Linked DNA regions of Homo sapiens. The protein of the gene in region 5 interacts with the protein of the main gene of each other region in a pairwise test. Each region holds a gene or a part of one and is shown on either strand. Other genes may lie near its edges. The genes, in order: SPATA22, CD19, CCDC91, CHST10, ECT2 and OOSP2.

Evidence for each region.
Region 1: the proteins of ECT2 (region 5) and SPATA22 interact in a two-hybrid assay, tested with the Homo sapiens proteins (one large-scale study listed by BioGRID).
Region 2: the proteins of ECT2 (region 5) and CD19 interact in a two-hybrid assay, tested with the Homo sapiens proteins (one large-scale study listed by BioGRID).
Region 3: the proteins of ECT2 (region 5) and CCDC91 interact in a two-hybrid assay, tested with the Homo sapiens proteins (one large-scale study listed by BioGRID).
Region 4: the proteins of ECT2 (region 5) and CHST10 interact in a two-hybrid assay, tested with the Homo sapiens proteins (one large-scale study listed by BioGRID).
Region 6: the proteins of ECT2 (region 5) and OOSP2 interact in a two-hybrid assay, tested with the Homo sapiens proteins (one large-scale study listed by BioGRID).

Annotation. Positions count from the first base shown.
Region 1 is NC_000017.11:3,447,820-3,451,319, reverse strand, and holds part of SPATA22 (spermatogenesis-associated protein 22), read left to right. Parts: intron 1-2,170; coding exon 2,171-2,513; intron 2,514-3,500. UniProt on the Homo sapiens protein: Meiosis-specific protein required for homologous recombination in meiosis I.
Region 2 is NC_000016.10:28,934,971-28,937,406, forward strand, and holds part of CD19 (B-lymphocyte antigen CD19 isoform 2 precursor), read left to right. Parts: intron 1-459; coding exon of another isoform or gene 460-473; coding exon 474-584; intron 585-1,182; coding exon 1,183-1,231; intron 1,232-1,541; coding exon 1,542-1,630; intron 1,631-2,052; coding exon 2,053-2,166; intron 2,167-2,300; coding exon 2,301-2,405; intron 2,406-2,436. UniProt on the Homo sapiens protein: Functions as a coreceptor for the B-cell antigen receptor complex (BCR) on B-lymphocytes. Decreases the threshold for activation of downstream signaling pathways and for triggering B-cell responses to antigens.
Region 3 is NC_000012.12:28,193,456-28,196,955, forward strand, and holds part of CCDC91 (coiled-coil domain-containing protein 91), read left to right. Parts: intron 1-3,500. UniProt on the Homo sapiens protein: Involved in the regulation of membrane traffic through the trans-Golgi network (TGN). Functions in close cooperation with the GGAs in the sorting of hydrolases to lysosomes.
Region 4 is NC_000002.12:100,414,869-100,419,032, reverse strand, and holds the start of CHST10 (carbohydrate sulfotransferase 10), read left to right. Parts: upstream 1-1,364; 5' UTR 1,365-1,659; exon of another isoform or gene 1,660-2,810; intron 2,811-3,921; 5' UTR 3,922-3,992; intron 3,993-4,164. UniProt on the Homo sapiens protein: Catalyzes the transfer of sulfate from 3'-phosphoadenylyl sulfate (PAPS) to position 3 of terminal glucuronic acid of both protein- and lipid-linked oligosaccharides.
Region 5 is NC_000003.12:172,764,226-172,767,725, forward strand, and holds part of ECT2 (protein ECT2), read left to right. Parts: intron 1-52; coding exon 53-275; intron 276-3,500. UniProt on the Homo sapiens protein: Guanine nucleotide exchange factor (GEF) that catalyzes the exchange of GDP for GTP. Promotes guanine nucleotide exchange on the Rho family members of small GTPases, like RHOA, RHOC, RAC1 and CDC42.
Region 6 is NC_000011.10:60,043,409-60,045,976, reverse strand, and holds part of OOSP2 (oocyte-secreted protein 2 precursor), read right to left. Parts: intron 2,509-2,568; coding exon 2,330-2,508; intron 1,307-2,329; coding exon 1,203-1,306; intron 1-1,202. UniProt on the Homo sapiens protein: Involved in oocyte maturation.

The DNA.
Region 1 (3,500 bases), on a different chromosome or scaffold from region 5:
ATATTTGCTTTATATATTTAGGTGCTCTGATATTGGATGTATATATGTTCACAATTTTTATGTCTTCCTATTGAATTTACCCATTTATCATTATATAATGACTTTCTTTGTCTTTAGAAACAACTTTTAACTTAAAGTCTATTTTGTCTGACATAAACTTAGCCACCCCTGTTTTCTTTTGGTTGCTGTTTGCATGGAATATCTTTTTCCATCCCTTTATTCTCAGCTTTTATGTGTCTTTGAATCTAAACTGAGTTCATTGTAGACAGCATACAGTTGGATCTTTAATCCACTCAGCCTCTCCTCATATAGGCATACCTTATTATGTTGCACTTTGCTTTATTGCACTTCACAGATACTGCATTCTTTACAAGTCAAAGTTTCGTAGTAACCCTGCATTGAGCAAGTCGATTGGTGCCATTTTCCAACAGTATGTGCTCACTTCATGTTTCTATGTCACATTTTGGTACTTCTTGCAATATTTCAAACTTTTTCATTATTATTATATCTGTTATGATGATCTGTGATCAGTGATCTTTGGCATTACTACAAATGTGCTGAACAGAGAGTTGTAAAGCTGAAATAAATTTTTCTAGACTATGAATAATAAAAGTAATTTCTATAACCATGAGAGTGAGGAAAGACAAAATTGTGTTTCTGTTCTCTTTATTGAAAATAAAATTACAAAATTGTTGCGTGTGATGGTACGTACCTGTAGTGCCAGCTACTCTGGAGGTTGAGGCAGGAGAATCACTTGTGCCCATGGGTTTGAGACTGGCCTGAGTCCAAAAAAATTACAAAATTATTGTCGTATGAAGAAGTGATCAGTGTAGGAAAAAATTTCTATAAAGGAGTATCAGGCAGTTAATTTATAATAATTCTAACAATTTTTTTCTGGGTATCGTGATGTTTGTGGTGTTTATAACTTAAATTGTTGTAATTGTGCTTTCTTTTCTCGTTATTTTGTACTAACTTTGTACCCAATTAACAGTGTTCCCCAAATTATACAAGCTTCAGACCTCATAAAACTTGGATTTGTTCCTGGTCAGCAGTGTACCTAGACCTCTTTTTGGATTATTTACCTAAGTAGGGGATGGGTTGTATTGGTTGCCCTCTTGTGATACTTGTGGTATTTCCAGGAAAATTACTGAGAATTAAGAATTTGTGGGCTGGGAATGGTGGCTTATGCCTCTAGCCCCAGCACTTTGGGAGGCCAAGGAGGTGGATCACTTGAGCCCAGGAGTTTGTGGCCAGCTTGGGCAACGTGGTGAAACCCTGTCTCTACAAAAAATAACAAAAATTAGCTGGGCATAGTGGCACTCACCTGTAGTTCCAGCTACTCAGGAGGCTGAGGTGGGAGGATCGCTTGAGCCTGGGAGATTGATGCTAGAGTGAGCTGTGTTCTTGCCATTACATTCCAGCCTGGGTAACAGAACGAGACCCTGTCTCCAAGAGAAAAAAAAAAAATTCGTGACTTAGACTAGTTTTGTTTCCTGTGGAACTCCTAACTAGGCTGCTCAGAAATTATGCTTTTGATTTTGGCCTCATTAGCATCTAGCATAATGTTCTGGTCAGCTGATATAACACACTTAATGTTGCTGACAAATGCTGTACCAAATACATTATAGGGCTTTTAAGCTGTGCAGTAAAACCACAAAATTTCTAATCAAATATTAATAGCTATCTATCCTGCTTATATGTATTCTCCTTGTGATTTAAAATCATTGCTAAGCCACAGTTTAACTTCTTAAAATTTTACTTTGTAGAAAATTTTAAAATTGAATATATAAAGAAGCAAGTAAATGCCCTCAAAGTCTTACCACTTGGATACAACTACTATCATATGAAGAATGCTATCATTTAAAAATATACTTTGTAGTACTAGACTCTGAGTTGGGAGATCTTGTATTTCCTGGGTTCTAGACTTGTGAGTAATTTCCTGTATGACTTTGGACAAGTTAATTCCTCATTAGGGATCAGTCTTCTCATCTGGAAAGAGAGGTAGTACAACATTGTAGGGTTGTTGTGATGTATTTGGAATTTCTCAGTAGTTAGTTATAAAGTGCTTTCTAAGTCATAAATTGCCATATAAATGAATTTTTCATTATTAATTTTTTTTGTAATTAAGAAACCATATAGAAACAAATGCTTTTTTTTTGCACTATTACAGCTACAGAGATGGTAACAAAAATACCAGCTTGAAAACTTGGAATAAAAATGATTTTAAGCCTCAATGTAAACGAACAAACTTAGTGGCAAATGATGGAAAAAATTCTTGTCCAGTGAGTTCGGGAGCTCAACAACAAAAACAATTAAGAATACCTGAACCTCCTAACTTATCTCGCAACAAAGAAACCGAGCTACTCAGACAAACACATTCATCAAAAATATCTGGCTGCACAATGAGAGGGCTAGACAAAAACAGTGCACTACAGACACTTAAGCCCAATTTTCAACAAAATCAATATAAGAAACAAATGTTGGATGATATTCCAGAAGACAACACCCTGAAGGTAAATGTTTAAATACAAATTAATGACTTATTTACATTTTTAAAAATATGAGGTAAATATTTAGAAAACTACAGAGATAAGAGCGCCTGAAATAAATTCCATGACATACATTACTTGATTAGCATAAATATTCAGTTCCATTGAAGTGGATGAATGTTAGTTTCCAAAATATTTTCTTAGAGGGTATGAATGGCTGCTCCTTTTCCTTTCAAACTTTAGAGTTTTCTGCTGGATTCTGACTTTCACTTTACACTCATTTTAAAGATAAAGACAGTTTATCCATTGTTTATGAAGTTACCCAGGCTCTTGATATGTCATTCTAAGTATTTTTCAACAGAGGTCAGCAAACATTTTTCTTAAAGGGCCAGACAGTATTTTTGGCTTTATGGGCCGTACTGTCTCTGTTGCAGCTACTCAGCAATACTACTCAACTCTGCCACTGTAGCTTGGAAGCAGCCATAAGCAATACATAAATGAATGGACACTGCTCTCCTCCAACAAATGTTTACACAAATAGATAGCAGGTTAGATTTGCACTGCAGGCCATAGTTTTCTTTATGATCAACTTATTATGACCTTTGCTTTATGATCTTGTCCTAGTCTACCTTTGTAGCCTCATATTTCATAGTCTACTAATTGTCCAATGCTCTAGCCACTTCAGACTCGTCACAATTCTCTAAACATAGCATACACTCTGTGCTTTGGTTTATATTCTTCCCTATACCTGTATCTCAACTGTACTTCCTCTCTACGCTCAGTGCTCTGATTGCTCTTTGTAAATGTTATTTATATATTATGTGTGCTGGTTATTCCTCATCTCTGCTCCCTGGCCCCTTGGCCCACTTGATTCTTCACCTGCCCTTCTCTGTTGTGGAAGGCTGAACTGTCCTATGTAGTGCATCATCCTGAGATTGTTTACTTGCTGGCTTTTGCTAGAGGTCAGCCAGTAGGAGTCACTGGTACGACATCATAGGGTGGGAGGAAAGG
Region 2 (2,436 bases), on a different chromosome or scaffold from region 5:
TGACCTCCTGGGACATGGCTCCTTAGAGAGAGGAGAGCCTTTCTCACAGCTTGGGACTTTGAGTCTGTGTCTTTTTTTTTTTCTTGAGACGGAGTTTTGCTGTGGTTGCCCAGGCTGGAGTGCAGTGATCTCGGCTCACTGAAACCTCCGCCTCCCGGGTTCAAACGATTCTCCTGCCTCAGCCTCCCAAGTAGCTGGGATTACAGGCACCCACCACCATGCCCAGCTAATTTTTTTGTATTTTTAGTAGAGATGGGGTTTCACCATGTTGGCCAGGCTGGTCTCGAACTCCTGACCTCAGGTGATCCACCCGCCTTTGCCTCCCAAAGTGCTGGGATTACAGGCGTCAACCACCGCGCCCGGCCGAGTCTGTGTCTTGCCTCTGTGCCTCAGACTTGCGGTTCCTTGAGATCTCAGGATTGGGACGTAAGATGCCAGCCTGGGGTCCTCGTCTCATAGCCCCTTCCCCCTAGTACTATGGCACTGGCTGCTGAGGACTGGTGGCTGGAAGGTCTCAGCTGTGACTTTGGCTTATCTGATCTTCTGCCTGTGTTCCCTTGTGGGCATTCTTCATCTTCAAAGAGGTGAGTCATGTCCCCAGTGGGTCTGTCCAAACCCTACTCCATCTTCCCCAGGATAAGCCGGCTCTGGCCAGTCTGACAACCATCTTTCTTTCCTCCCATCCCTCCCTTCAAGACCCCAGAATCCTGTTCTCCCCAGTCTTCCTCTAGCCTCCCTCAAACTTCCCAAGCCTCTTGCAATTTTTTTTTTTTTTTTGAGACAGGGTCTCATTCTGTCACCCCAGCTGGAGTGCAGTGGCACAATCTGAGCTCACTGTAACCTCTGCCTCCCAGGCTTAAGTGATTCTTGTGCTTCAGCCTCCCGAGTACCTGGGACTACAAGTGTATGCCACCACACCCGGCCAATTTTTTATATTTTTAGTAGAGACGAGGTTTCACCATGTTGGCCAGACTGGTCTCGAACTCTTGACCTCAAATGATCCGCCCACCTCGGCCTCCCAAAGTGCTGGGATTACAGGCACGAGCCACCGCGCCCGTCCGCCTCGCAATTTGAACTCCTGTCTCCTTTGTTGAACCAAGTGACCTCCCCAGCACCTGGCCCCACAAATCCTCACCCTGCCAAGCAGCCCCTCCTCTGATCACGCCCTTTAACTCCCACCAGCCCTGGTCCTGAGGAGGAAAAGAAAGCGAATGACTGACCCCACCAGGAGGTAATGCAACCAGTGCACCCCGCGGTAACACCCTCCACCTTCACTTTATGCCTTGCACTTACTGTTTCCTCTGCCCAGGGGTTCTTTGCTCCGTCTCTACTGTTTCAAATACTGCCCAACCTCAAAGCCCAGCTCCAAAGCTACCTCCTCTGTGAAGAACTCCTTGGAAATGATCATCTCAGACTCCTCTATTGGCTGTCCCAGCACAAGTGATCACGTTTAACTTCTGAAGGCCTGGACAGAATCTTGAGTGGGTCCGCCATTCCATTCCAAGTCGGCCCTCACCGTGCACTTCCTCTTCTCCCGCCAGATTCTTCAAAGTGACGCCTCCCCCAGGAAGCGGGCCCCAGAACCAGTACGGGAACGTGCTGTCTCTCCCCACACCCACCTCAGGCCTCGGTAAGAGGCACCGCCCCTCCAGCCTATAGCTCCGCCCCAGATCCGGGGCTCCACCCCCACTCTCCTCATCCCTCCAATCCGCTGTGCGCCAAGCCTTCTGGAGCTCGGAACTCCGCCCCCGGGGCGGGGAGTCCCGCCCAGCTATGAGCCCCGCCTCTAGAACCAGACCCCGCCTCCAGGGCTCAGAGCCACGCCCCCAGGACCCAGAGCCTGAAGTCGTAATCAAGAGCAGAACTTCGCCCCAGAACTGAAGGCCTCGGCCCTAGATTTAGATTCCGCCCCAGGGTTCAAGGCCGGGTTCCTAGACCCAGAGTCCATTCGCAGAGCCCAAAACATCCTCTTCCCGTGCCCCGCCGCGCGGACCCTTAGCCTTGACCGCCCCCATCTCTTCTGACCCCGTCTTACAATGCCCCTCTCACCAGGACGCGCCCAGCGTTGGGCCGCAGGCCTGGGGGGCACTGCCCCGTCTTATGGAAACCCGAGCAGCGACGTCCAGGCGGATGGAGCCTTGGGGTCCCGGAGCCCGCCGGGAGTGGGTGAATGACTGGGAGAGGGAAGGGTCGTTCCCCACATGGAGGGGGTTGGAGCGGTCTGTGGCCCGAATAGTGGACTGGGCCCTGGAGGAGAGGGGGCATGACTCGGTTCCCCATCCCCATCCCCAAACCCCCAGGCCCAGAAGAAGAGGAAGGGGAGGGCTATGAGGAACCTGACAGTGAGGAGGACTCCGAGTTCTATGAGAACGACTCCAACCTTGGGCAGGACCAGCTCTCCCAGGGTAAGGCTGCCCTCCCCCGTGGCCCCCCACC
Region 3 (3,500 bases), on a different chromosome or scaffold from region 5:
CTGGGCGTGGTTGCGGGTGCCTGTAATCCCAGCTACTCAGGAGGCTGAGGCAGGAGAACTGCTTGAACCAGGGAGTCGGAGGTTACAGTGAGCTAAGATCGTGCCACTGCACTCCAGACTGGTGACAGAGTGAAACTCCGTCTCAAAAACAAAAAAAAAAAAAAGAAGGAAATTACCAAACTGTTTTCCAAGGTAGCTGTTTCATTTTGCATTCCCGCAAGTGATGTTTGATGTTCCAGTTGCTCCACATTCTGGTCAGCACTTGTCATTTTATTTTTAATGTTAGCTATTCTAATATGCGTTTAGTGAAAACCCATTTATGTTTTAATTTGAATTTTTCTTCTAACATATTGAGCGTCTTTTCCTGTGCTATTATTTGCCATCTGTGTATCTTCTTTGATTAAGTGTCTGCTGAAATCGTTTGTTCGTTTTTAATAGGGTTGTTTGTTATTGGTTTGCAAGTGTTTTATACAGTCTGGATACAAATTCATTATCGTATATATGTTCACAGCATTTCCTTCGAGTCTGAGTCTGTAGTTTGTCCTTTCATTTTCTTAACAGTATCTTTCAAAGAGCAGAAGTTTTAAATTTTGGTGAAGTCCAGTTTATCAGTTTTTTCTCTTATGATTTGTGCTTTTTTATCATGAGAAATTTTGCCTAATCCAACGTTGCAAAGATTTTTTTTCTTATGTTTTCTTCCAGAACTTTTATAGCTTTAAATTTTAGATTTAGGTCTGTGACCAATTTCGAGTTAATTTTTGCATATAGTGTGAGGTAGGGGTCAAGACTCTCTCTCTCTCTTTCTCTCTCTGTGTGTGTGTGTATGGATGCCCCAGTCTTGCAGCACCATCTCTTGAAAAAGACTATTCTTACTGTGTCCAGAATTGGTTCCTTCCAGTGGGTTCTTGGTCTTGCTGACCTCAAGAATGAAGGCACGGACCCTCGCAGTGAGTGTTACAGTTCTTGAAGATGGTGTGTCCGGAGTTTGTTCCTCCAGAAGTTCAGATGTGTCTGGAGTTTCTTCCTTCTGGTGGGTCCATGGTCTTGCCGACTTCAGGAGCAAAGCCACAGACCTTTGCAGTGAGTGATACAGCTCTTAAAGGTGGCGCATCCGAAATTGTTCATTCCTCCTGGTGGGTTTGTGGCCTTGCTGGCTTCAGGAGTGAAGCTGCATCCGAAATTGTTCATTCCTCCTGGTGGGTTTGTGGCCTTGCTGGCTTCAGGAGTGAAGCTGCAGACCTTTGCGGTGAGTGTTACAGCTCATAGAGGTGGCGTGTCCTGAGTTGTTTGTTCCTCCCAGTGGGTTTGTGGTCTCGCTGGCCTCAGGAGTGAAGCTGTAGACCTTTGTGGTGGGTGTTGCAGCTCATTGTTATAGCTCGTAAAGGTGGCGTGTCCGGAGTTGTTCGTTCTTCCTGGTGGGTTCGTGGTCTCGCTGGCTTCAGGAGTGAAGCTGCATACCTTCACTGTGAGTGTTACAGCTCATAAAGATAGTGCGGACCCAAAGAGTGAGCAGCAGCAAGATTTATTGCGAACAGTGAAAGAACAAAGCTTCCACAGCATGGAAGGGGACCCGAAGGGGTTGCTGCTGCTGGCTCGGGTGGCCTGCTTTTATTCCCTTATTTGGCCCCACTCACATCCTGCAGATTGGTCCATTTACAGAGAGCTGATTGGTCCATTTTACAGAGTGCTGATTGGTCCGTTTTACAGAGTGCTGATTGGTCCGTTTTGCCAGAGTGTTGATTGGTGCATTTACAAACCTTTAGCTAGACACAGAGCGCTGATTGGTGCATTTACAATCCTTTAGCTACACAGAAAAGTTCTCCAAGTCCCCTACCCGATTAGCTAGACACAGAGTGCTGATTGGTGCGTTTACAAACTGTTAGCTAGACACAGACTCTGATTGGTGCATTTACAATCCTTTAGCTAGATAGAAAAGTTCTCCAAGTCCCCACCTGACCCGGAAGTCCAGCCGGCTTCACCTCTCATTACTATCTTTTCTTCATTAAATTTCTTTGGCTTGCCTTGTTAAAAATCAGTTGAGTATGTTTGTGTGGTTTGCTTTGTGGACTCTATTTTGTTCCATTGTTCTGTGCGTCTGTTTGGCTAAAACCTCAGTCCTTATTATGGTAGCGTTATAGTGTATCTTGAAGTCAAAAAGCCTGAGTCCTCCAACTTTGTTGTTGTTTGCCAAAAATTTTTGAGTATTCGAGTTCTTTTTCTTTCCATGTACATTTTAGAATCTCTTTATTTCTATATAAAAGCATTGTGGAATTTTTAGTATGATTGCATTGAAGTTATGGATCCATTTGGGGAGAATTGACATCTTAAAAATGTTGTTTTCTAATCCATTAATAAAATACCTTTCCTGTCCCACTGCTATGGCTCATGCTTGTAATCCCAGCACTTTGGGAGGTCAAGGTGGGAGGATCGCTTGAGCCCAGGAGTTCAAGAGCAGCTTGGACAACATGGCAAAACCGCATCTCTACAAAAATGAGAAAAATTAGCTGGGTGTGTTGCCATGCACCTGTAGTCCCTGATACTTGGAAGGCTGAGGTGGGAGGATTGATTGAGCCTGGGAGGTAGAGGCTGCAGTGAGTTGTGATCATGCCACTGCACTCTAGCCTCTGCAACAGAGAGAGCCTCTTTCAAGAGAGAAAACAAAATGAAACAACCTTTCTACGTTTATTTGGTCTTTGATTTCTCTCTGTTTTTAAGCTTTCCGCATAAAAATGTTGCGCATATTTTGTTATGTTTGTATCTAAATGTTTTATGTTGTTTGGTTCTGTTGTAAACAGTAACCTTTAAAAATTTTTAAATTTCCAATTACTTATGTAAGTGAATCAGTATTTTAATATTGATCTTGAATTTTTGAATTTTACAACCTTGTTAAACTCACGAGTTCGTTCTAGTAGCTTTTGTAGCTACTGCTGTCTGCTGGTAGAGACAGCTTTATTTCACATTTTCTCATTTGTTTGCCTTTTATTTTGTTTTCTTGTCTCTTTGCACTGGCTAGGACCTTTGCTAATGTTAACTAGAACAAGTCAGATCAGCACAGATATCCTTGCATTGCTCTTCATCTTAGTAGAGAAGGTATACAGTCTTTTACCATTGAGTAGTTAGCTGTAAGTTTTTTGTGGATATCATTTTGACCCAGCCAAGGAAGTTCTCTTTAACTCCTGCTTAGAGCTTTAAAATTTAATCACAAGTGAATGTTATATTGCTTTTTTTGATTGTGAACATGATAGTTGATTACAGTAGAAAGTTGGAAATAAAGGAAGACTATAAAAAAAGTTACCCTATTTTCAGTAATCTGAGGTAACTGCTGCAAACATTGTGGTGGCTTTTCTTTCAGTCTTTTCTTTTGCAAATATATTTTAAAAACAAAATTGTTAATATTGTTTTATATTTTGCCCTTTTCACTCAGAATCACATTGGGAGTACTTGCATCATGAATTATTTTGAAAACTTGATTTGTAATGGTTATGGGTTATTGTGTTATA
Region 4 (4,164 bases), on a different chromosome or scaffold from region 5:
CCTGCCTCAGTCTCCCGAGCAGCTGGGATTACAGGCACGTGCCCCCACTCCTGGCTAATTTTTTTTGTAGTTTTATTAGAGACAGGGTTTCTCCATGTTGGTCATGCTGGTCTCGAACTCCCGACCTCAGGTGATCCACCTACCTCCGCCTCTCAAAATGTTGGGATTACAGGCGTGAGCCACCACGCCCGGCCTAGTACCACATTCTGTAGATGAGAAGACTGGGACACAGAGAGATGAGAGTGTGACAAGGTCAACAGTCATATGCAGTGACTAAGGCTCTGAATCCACGTGGTCTGATTCCCAGAGCCTTGATCCTTAAATCCTGCATAATATGCTGCATCACATCCAAGCTTCACATTTACTTACTTCTTTTCTGCCGTGCACGTGTATCGATTCAAATCCTCAAAGGGAAACCCAATGTCTCATCTCAACCACAGGGCCCCAAAAAAGGGCTCAGTAAACGTCTTCTGCATGAGGGACAGAACCTTTAAACCATGATTAGTAATGGGGCTAGAAGTGAAATACTCAAACAGCCAGCTCCCTCAATATTATTAACTCATTAAGGAGGGAACCAATAAAAAAGAAAAAAAACAAAAACAAAAACGCTTGTTCCTTGAAAGCTTTGAAAAATTGTGTGTGTGTGTGTGTGTGTGTGTATACATACACGTATCTATTTTACTTGTTTGCTAAATAGACACAGATATAGTCGGGTAGTTAACAAACATGTAGGTTGTATAAAAATAAAACTAGTTTATCTTCTTTGGGGCAATAAAATCCCAATACCTTTGAGGTTGACTCAGGCCTTATCCATTTCTGCAGGTTAAGAAGTTACAATTCTTCAGGTCTGTAAACTGGTCAGGCCGTTATCATTGTCCTTCGTTAATCCACTGTACCTAGACAACAGTTACATCCCCAACCCGGACAGCCAAGGGGGTTCTTTAAAGAATAGAACGTCCCCCTTTTACTAAGTAGGCTTATTAGAAAATGCTAGAAGTTACCCTTAACGCAAGCAAGTGGCCTTTTTCCAAGTTGGGGATTTAAGAAATTTACTTATCTATTTTTTGTATTTTTCCAAGGTGGTTTTGTGTGTGTGTGTGACTTTGTTGTTGTTTTGGTTTGGTTTTTTGCCTTTTTCCAAGTTTGGGATTTTTTTTCTTTCTCAAAAAGCGAACCTGTTTTCTGGATGGAGGCCCAGCGGGACTTGTTCCGGCCGCAGGTCTCGGTCAGAAAGAACGCTTTTGCAGCGGCAGAAAGGGAGACTCGGGATCCGGGCCTGGGGTCCCGCGGCCGCGCCCCTCCCCACTCCCCGCGACCCGCTGGAACGCGCACGGCCGGGGACGGCGGCGGGGACGCGCGCGGGCAGGCGGCGCGCACGGCCGGATAGGCGCGAGGGGGCCGCGTGAGGCGGTGCCGGCGTTCTGGCCCCCAAAGCCGGTCTAGCGCGCCGGGCGTCTTCCTTACTTCCGCTGCCGCCGCCGCCACATCCCGGGACCCGACGGGCCGCGGCGCGGAGGCCTCGGGGCAAGGTGGGGCGGGCCTCCCGAGCTCCCAGGACCCCGCGCGCTTCGCCCACAGGCCCGGCGAAGCCCGACCCGCGCGGCGCCCCCAGGGCCAGGGGAGGAGCCTAAGGACCCGGACGAGCGCCGCTCCAGTAGGGTGAGCTCGGGGACGCGCAGGCGGGTGGGTTTCAGCGCCTGGGCCCCTCTCCCCGCCGCGGGGCGCACGGAAAAACCGGGGAACCCGCGGGTTTTGTCCTGGCGAGCCACATCCCGGTGTGTTTTGGCGACTTGAAGACCTCCCTAGTTCGCGGGAGTAGCGGGAAGAGCCTTCCTCGCGTTAATTATGCAATAAGAAGGCGTCCTTGTGCGGGATGCTGTGACCCGCGGAATTATTGATATTGTGCGAGCCTACAATTTACTTCTTTCATCCTTGGCTGAGAATTTGCGTTTGTAATTGTAGATGGAGAGAGGAAGAAAGGGTTCAGCTTGGGTCCAAGGAGCATGCAGAGGAAGGCAGGGAAGAAGGAGCATGTGCAGCTTCGGTGCGAGGGGAGTCAGGGGTGGGAATGCACGTTCCCTGCCTGAGGGGCCCCGGGGTGCCCTGAGCCTCTGATCTTCGCTGTCAGGAGGCCTGTCCGAAGTTGGAGGTTGAGGCATGCAGTTCTGCACTTCTGGCTGGGAAGGTGAACCAGGTTTTCCAAAATGTCATTTTTGCTTTCCAAGTCTGCAAGGCAGGAAAGGGTTGGGCAGTGAATGGAAAGTAGTGCAGCCAGGTTCTGGTTAGCTCAGCGGCAGGACTGTCATAACGGTGGGTTTTTGTTGTTGTTGTTGTTGTTGTTGTTTTGTCTGAAAACCAGAGTCTGGGGCTTTGGGCCATGAGGAGTTGGGTTATTGCATTGCTTAGAGTGCCAGAGTGAGAAATGTCTCAGACGCTGTTAAAATTAGGCAGCTCAGTTTAGCTCTGGCTCTCTGATAACCAACCACCTCCTCCTTCACTCTTTTCAGTGACTGGGTTAAAATGAAAAGACACAAAGAGAGAAGTGGTCTTTTCCCTTCCCTCCCCATTATAATTAAGAGCTTAGTCCATCTTGGCTCAGAATTGGAATTCAGAATTCAGAATTGCTCTTGACCCTGAAGAATAGAATCTCAAAGAAATACCTGAGCAGAAAATTCTCTTCTTCGCTGAAATGAAAATTGGAGTGTTTGCAAAACTGAACAAAGAAAGGAAAGAATTTGTAAACATCACAGGCAACTTGCAGTTATATTCGGATCATTTTTCAGTGTTTGAGGAGTTCATACAATAAAAAGGTGAGAGAGAGCCAGGAATAGAAACAGGGGAGAGAGGTGGTTGCAGGACCTTAGAGATTGCAGAAACCCAGGAGTTCATTTTCTTTTCATACACTTCTGGATAACCTGGATGTGAGGACCATCAAATGCCGTACATGATGTTTCTAACAATGATGGACCACATATACAACAGTGGTCCCATAAGACTATACTACCTTATTTTTACTCTACCTTTTCTAATTTTAGATACACAAATACTTACCATTGTATTACAGATGCTTACAGTATTCAGTACAGTAACAGCAGTACAAGTTAGTAGCCCGGGAGCAATAGATGATTCCATATAGCCTAGGTGTGTGGTCAGCTGTACCATATAGCCTAGGTGTGTGGTTAGCTGTACTATCTAGGTTTATGTAAGAACGCTCTGATGTTTGCAGAAGAACATCGCCTAACGATACATTTCTCAGAAGGTATCCCTATTGTTAAGTGATGAATGACTGTATATAAAGCTTAATCTTTCAATCAACATAATAGGAAATTGCTTTTAATTTTAGCATTGAGTTCTTAGAGTAAAGGGAGGCAGAGAGAGACCGTGCTGCATGTGTCCCAGTCAGCTTGGGCTTTATTGTATGTTAAATGAGTTGTATGTTTATTTTGGTAGATCTCCTAAATCCATGATCTAATTCCATGACTTTGGCTTGTTTCTGGTTTTTTATGATATGGCATTTGGCTAAAATTTTCCAGGTGCTAAAGGTGTAAGGAGTACGAAAATCCAGAGAACATTTTGCATTGGAAGAATTGATCATCTTGTATAGGAATCCTATAACTATTTCAAACATACGAAACAGGCATAATTGGATTTGATTATTTTTGCTACAAAAAATGTTTCATTTTTCACACTAAGTTACATGGAAGAGTCTTTTAAACAGCTAGTGGTTTTGGTACATTTAGAATATTCATTTACCAAGAAATCCAAATATAACCTGCCTTTGTAAGAGACCCATTCTGCCAAATATATTTGAATCATCAAAATGGTTCACTATTTCCTTCCTAAGTATAAACCAAGTTGTATTAAGTAAGTTGATCTTGTAACTTTTAATAATGCTTTTTTTTTTTTAATTTTCCTATCCAGTGACAAGAGGAACCAAGAACCTCAGTTCAGGGGAAACACAGCAAGGAAATGTGAGCCCCAGGCTGCAGAAGGTACGTGAAGGAGAATGTGAGCTCATCAGTTATTTGAGCATGCCATTCAGTATTGTTCCTGCCTTTTTTCTTGCCTGTGCAGATTGTAAACTCTTGATTAGGAGTATGTAAATGTGTGCTTAGAAACGTTTCCTTAAATATAATAATAGGAGCATGCTCTGAGGCTGGGATT
Region 5 (3,500 bases):
TCTCAGTAAAGAACCATGGAAGTAAATTGAGCTTGTGTGCTTTTGATTACAGGCAAATACTCCTGAGCTCAAGAAATCAGTGTCAATGCTTTCTCTAAATACCCCTAACAGCAATCGCAAACGACGTCGTTTAAAAGAAACACTTGCTCAGCTTTCAAGAGAGACAGACGTGTCACCATTTCCACCCCGTAAGCGCCCATCAGCTGAGCATTCCCTTTCCATAGGGTCACTCCTAGATATCTCCAACACACCAGAGTCTAGCATTAACTATGGAGGTAATTCACATTCTTAAAAACTTGTCTTTAAAGTTTAGTGGAATGGAATAATTGTTAGAATTTAGATAAATCCCTGATATAGTGAATATGGAAGTCTTTGCCTTTAATTACCTTTGTTCTAGCTGTAGAGAAAAGACACATGAATAGTTAAGCTTAATAATGTTGCAATTTAATGACTGCTTACTACATGCTAAATGCTTTATACGTTTTGTGTGTTTATAATAGATTTTATTATTCCTGTTTTACAGATGACTAAACTGAGATACAGAGAAGTTAAGTAATTTCTCCAGGGTCATATAACTAGAGAGTGATAGTGCTGTTCAAAAAGCAAACAAAGTCACAGGGGAGGTCACATAAATTATGGAGAAAATAGGTAGAATGAAGTCAGAGGAGGGTGAGTTCACTTTGTGCTGAACTGATACAGAAAGGCTCCTATAATTCTTCCTTGGTTATCAGTATTTCCCTTTCTTTTTGATTTTTAGTCTGTAAACAAATGTGTTTTCTAGATTTAAGAAACAAAAAAAATCAAAATCTCCTCCGGACCTCATGACACTTTTCACTTATTGTCCCATTTTTCTGTTTGCTTTCACATCAGCATACTTAAAAGAATTACTTTGATCTATTGTCTCATTTCCTTGATTCTCGTTGTCCTTTCAACGCATTCCAACTGATCTGCAGTCCTTGTTGGGGAGACAGTTTTTATGCATTCAACACATGAATAGCTACTCCTTTATGGACACAATTTTTTTTCTTTGCTTCTGTGATATTACTTACTCATTTCTCATTCTCCTTGGCCTAACTTCTTTTTTTCAATTCTAAATGTTGTATGTTCCTCCTGAGTCATTGTTTCTTCTCTATTGTACTCTCCCTAAATTATCGTAGTAAAATCTATGGTTTTGAAAAGCATTTGTATGCTGATGACTCCCAAATTTGTCCTCTTCCCTGTCAAGCTACCTACTTTGTACTTCCTTGTCCATGTCTAATAGATATCTTAAACCTAAGATAACCAAATTAGACCTTTGGATTCTGCCACTCTTAATTCCTCTGTTCCTTTGCTCCTCTTCATCAGTCTTTTCTGTAAAAAGGATCTCTCTTAGATGATTGCAGTAGTCTCCTAAATAGTCTCTCCCTTTTAATTTGTGCCTTTCTATATGCAACACTTAGAAAAATCTTTAAAAATATATAAATTAGATGATGCCACTCCTCTGCTTTAAAATCACTTAATGGCTTTCTATTACTGTAGCTTTTAAGTCCCTATGTAATCTTGCCCTCATCTGCCTAATCTCATGTGGTATTATGCTCTCTAATAATGCCTGTACTCTCTAAGCTTCAGTCATACCATCTTTGTTATTCTTCAAATATTTTTAGTACATCCATACCTCAGGACTTTGTTACTTTCTCTGCCTCAAGGAAATCTGCGTGGATTGTCTGTAAAGTTAAATCCCTCCACTCCTTTCTGCCAATCCTGTGACCTGGTAGTTGTTTTTAGTAGTAGTTCTTACGATAGAAATTACAGTACTTGTTTACTTCTTTATTATTTGATTTGCTTCAAATAAGTAATCTTTAAGAGAAAATGAACCTTGTCTGTCTTATTCTGTGTTTATCCTCAGACCCTAGTATAAAGTGGGTATTCACTAAATACTTAAGGGAAGAACTGAAAGTGAATTCAAGGTTGGCCCAGAAATTTGAAATGAATTTGAGAATATAAAGAGGAGCAAATATACAGATAATAGCATACAAACTGAGTTTTTAGAGAATAATGGATAGATCAGTTTGCTTGGAATGTGGAGGAATAAAAGTTAAAAATGTTAATTGAGGCCTAATATTAGGTCACTTTCAAATAAGACTGTAATATCTGAACTGTATATTGTCATCAACAAGGAATTTTAGAAACTCCTTGAGCAGCAGAGAAATTGATTGAATAGATAATTCATAGAGAGTTGTTCTGAAGAATGATTAGAAGGAAGGCAGTTTGGAGACAGTCAGACCATGATGTAATCTATTACAATCGCTTCGGCCATGAAATAATAAGGTGCTGAACCAGAGTATGTGGTGGTTGGAAAGAAAAGTAAGAAGCACTGGAGAAATATTGGTAGAATAAAGCAATAGGGAGGAAATAAAAAGAGATGAAGGCAAATTACTAATTTAAATGAAAGAAATGTTGCCTTGGCATGGATAGGAAATTTATATTTTGGAGGGAGGTAGTGAAGTTTTAGAGAAATCCAAGTTACATTAAGGCAGAACTATCCAGTAAGCATTTGGAAAAGTTGAACCAGCTTGAGAGGGAGATCATGATTAGATCTGAGAATGTACTAGTTTTATAATCATAATGGACAATAGCATGGGATGGTAAGAGGAGAACATAAAGGACTGAAACTTGAATATGCATTTTAGGAGACAAGAGAACAAAATGAACCACCGAAGTAAACAGATGTGACAACTATACTGATATTTTAGGTGCTCTGTAAAATAGATTCCCCAGTTTGTAGGTCATTGTCTAGACACAGAATAATTAAATTAGATCAGTGCATCTCAATTTTTTCCCACTGAAGTATATTCTGTAATGGCAGAGGCTTCTGGGTCTGGTGAGTGTAGCCTAAAATAATGTTTGACAAGTGGGAAATTTTTTGAGATTCTGTTTTTTTTAAAAAGCACTCAGGGGCTGGGCGCGGTGGCCCACGCCTGTAATCCCAGCACTTTGGGAGGTTGAGGAGGGCAGATCACGAGTTCAGGAGTTCGAGACCAGCCTGACCAACATGGTGAAACCCCATCTCTACTAAAAATACAAAAATCAGCAGGGTGTGGTGGTGTGCGCCTGTAATCCCAGCTACTCAGGAGACTGAGGCAGGAGAATCACTTGAACCCGGGAAGTGGACGTTGCAGTGAGCCGAGATGGCACCACTGCACTCCAGCCTGGGGGACAGAGTGAGTCTCCATCTCCAAAAAAAAGCACTCAGAACTCCATAGTACATAATTGTTTTCATATAAAAGCATTTAAAATTGTTTATCATTGAGTAAAATTGATGTGCTGGAAATATATATTATGGTTCTTTGTCACCTATTTCTATTTTATGTCATACATTCCTTTTCCTGTTGAAAAACTTGCTATTAGGTGCTTCTATATATAATGTTAAAGTATTCTAACCATATTAACAGTAAGAAAACAGATTTTAAGCTTTTATACATTAAAAAGATGTATATATATCTATAGATATGTGTATAGAT
Region 6 (2,568 bases), on a different chromosome or scaffold from region 5:
GAGAAACAGGGACAGACCAGAAAGACAGGGACAGACAAGGACAGAGACAGAGATAGAGACAGAGAATCAAGGGGTGGTTTCTATTTAGAGTTCAGCTATGTTCCTGAATATCACTAAATCCCTCAGCCTTTATGAAAATAAGTTAAAGGGAAGAGTAAAAGTATTATGAAAATACTTTATGAAAATAAGTTAAAGGGAAGAGTAAAAGTATTAACAATGTGAATGGACTTAATGCCACTGAACTGTACACTTAAAATGGTATCTTAGATTATGTACATTTTACCAAAATTAAAAGATTTGTACATTTTCCCAAAATTAAAAAAGATTATATACATTTTAACAAATTTACAACTTGTACAAATGTACAAGATTATGTATATTTTACCAAAATTAAAAAAAAATTCTGCCTCTCCTTGAGAAAAAGTACTATAATCACATTAAGACATTGCACATTGGCTGAGCTCTAAATTCTTATTTTGATGTCAACTATTTTCACATATTAAGCAAGGATAAAAATTTTCCTGTGGTTTTGAGATAGTTTCCAAGGTTCTTCACTCAGATTTATAAGACTTAACATAAATATTTCAATGGCATGGCAAAAAAAAAAAAAGTGTATCAGGATACCTTTCCACTTAGTCTCAAAGTTCACACGAGGCTCTTGGGATTCAATATCTCAGTTCCACAAAATTGCAAGCAAAGTACATTTAATAATTAGGCTGATAAGCCCTCCCTTCATGTATTCTCCATGAGTTAGTATTAAATGAAGGACTGATTTTCTTATGTTTTTAGCCACTTACTCTTATAAGATGAAATTGAGCAATAAAATGTATCAGAATATTATAAAAGACAAAACATTGAAAGATAATATCAGTGCTTAATCCTATCACTTACTAAAGGTGACAGAGTATTTAATGACTCTGCTTTGTAGTTGAGTTATTATAAAATAACATAGTTACACTAGATTGTTAGGACCATTATAAATCTATATGTTTTTATTCTAAAATAAACATTACATTCAAAATATTAAAACATTTTAAAGTACTCATTAAAATATTTGTGTAAATACTAATTTGGGGTTTGTTTACAATTATACTTATGGGTGAATCATGTTATATTCTCTAAAGTCTATGCTTCTGCAGAAGCTTCTCATAAGCAAAGGTAAAGCTAAAACATTCCAAAGGAATCAAATCTGCTGGACTTACCTAGAGGTGGAACACTCCAAATGGATTTCCTGAGGGTCATGATCTATATTCCTTGGGGTAAAGTACAGCTCGGTTTGAAAAAGGAGAGTTTCCTCAGAAACTACCTAGGAGAGCATGAAGTTTCAGTGGAAGATATTTGGAGTAACAGATGAGGAATACACACACTTGAATAGGATGTAAAAAACATTCATGATCTCAAAAATGGCTACTGTCATTCTTAAATATAAATAAAGATATGACAACTCACTGGGACAGAAGAGGAGTGTTATCCCTAAGAGTGAATTTAAAATGCCTGGGGGCAAAACAATCTTAATTCATTGCAGCAAATTTAAACTGCCGCTTACAGCCATCTTTATGATTCATTAATGAAAAGGTTTCCAACAGTTCCTTTGAGAAAGGTGATTTGTAAGTCAAATAACGGAGAGTGGTTTAAAGCACAAGCTTCGGAGAGTATTCATCCTGGTTTGGTATCTAAACTACCACCAACAAGCAGTGCATCCCTGGAAAAGCTGGTAAAGCACCTTCTGAAGCTCCAAGTTCCCAATTTCTAAAATAAAATACTTTATTCAAAAATGATTGTTATTATCATTGGTCACTGGCCCAAAATATTTGTGTAGTGTGAATATAAATTGCTTAAATTTGGGAATCTGTGAGAAGATAATATCCCAGGATAACAACGCAATTTAGGATTTGTGCCTAGCTGAATGACAAGAGATTTCATTTCAATGAAAATCCACTATATATTTACACAAATCCTCATGGAACATGGATAGATTTCAAATGACCTAACATTGAACATGATGGAGCTTCCCAAGATTGGTGACCTTCCACATTAGAAGAATCACACAAAATTTAAAGCAGTCTGCTAATATTTAGTAAAATATAATAGTAGCCTAAGGGCAACTTAGAATCAGTTCCCTAGCCAATTTATAAATCTGTGATCTAAGGTCCTGTGCACACAGAATGACCCAATATTCAGTGAAAAATAATGATAAATTCCGTTGTCCCCTGCCCATAAATTACTACAATGAGAAGCAAACATTATTTTTTTAAAAGACAATTTTAATACTAGGCATAAAAGTCTGACAAAACATGCAGTATTTTTTACAAACAATCACTGTTCTTACCCTTGTCCTGATGCCACAATCACGAACAAGATATATAAACTCATATACATATGTATGTATCCGATTTGCAGGGCAGCCCATTCCCAGATGTAATTCATCCGCAAATATATACAGATTTCTGCTTTCTGCAACTGGGATAACTGAGACCATCAACCAGTCCAGAGAGCAACTTATTTTCACTGTGGAAAGAACCATATGAAAAGCATCAGAAGGGTGTCTATCTTAAGAAAGTGTTCAAA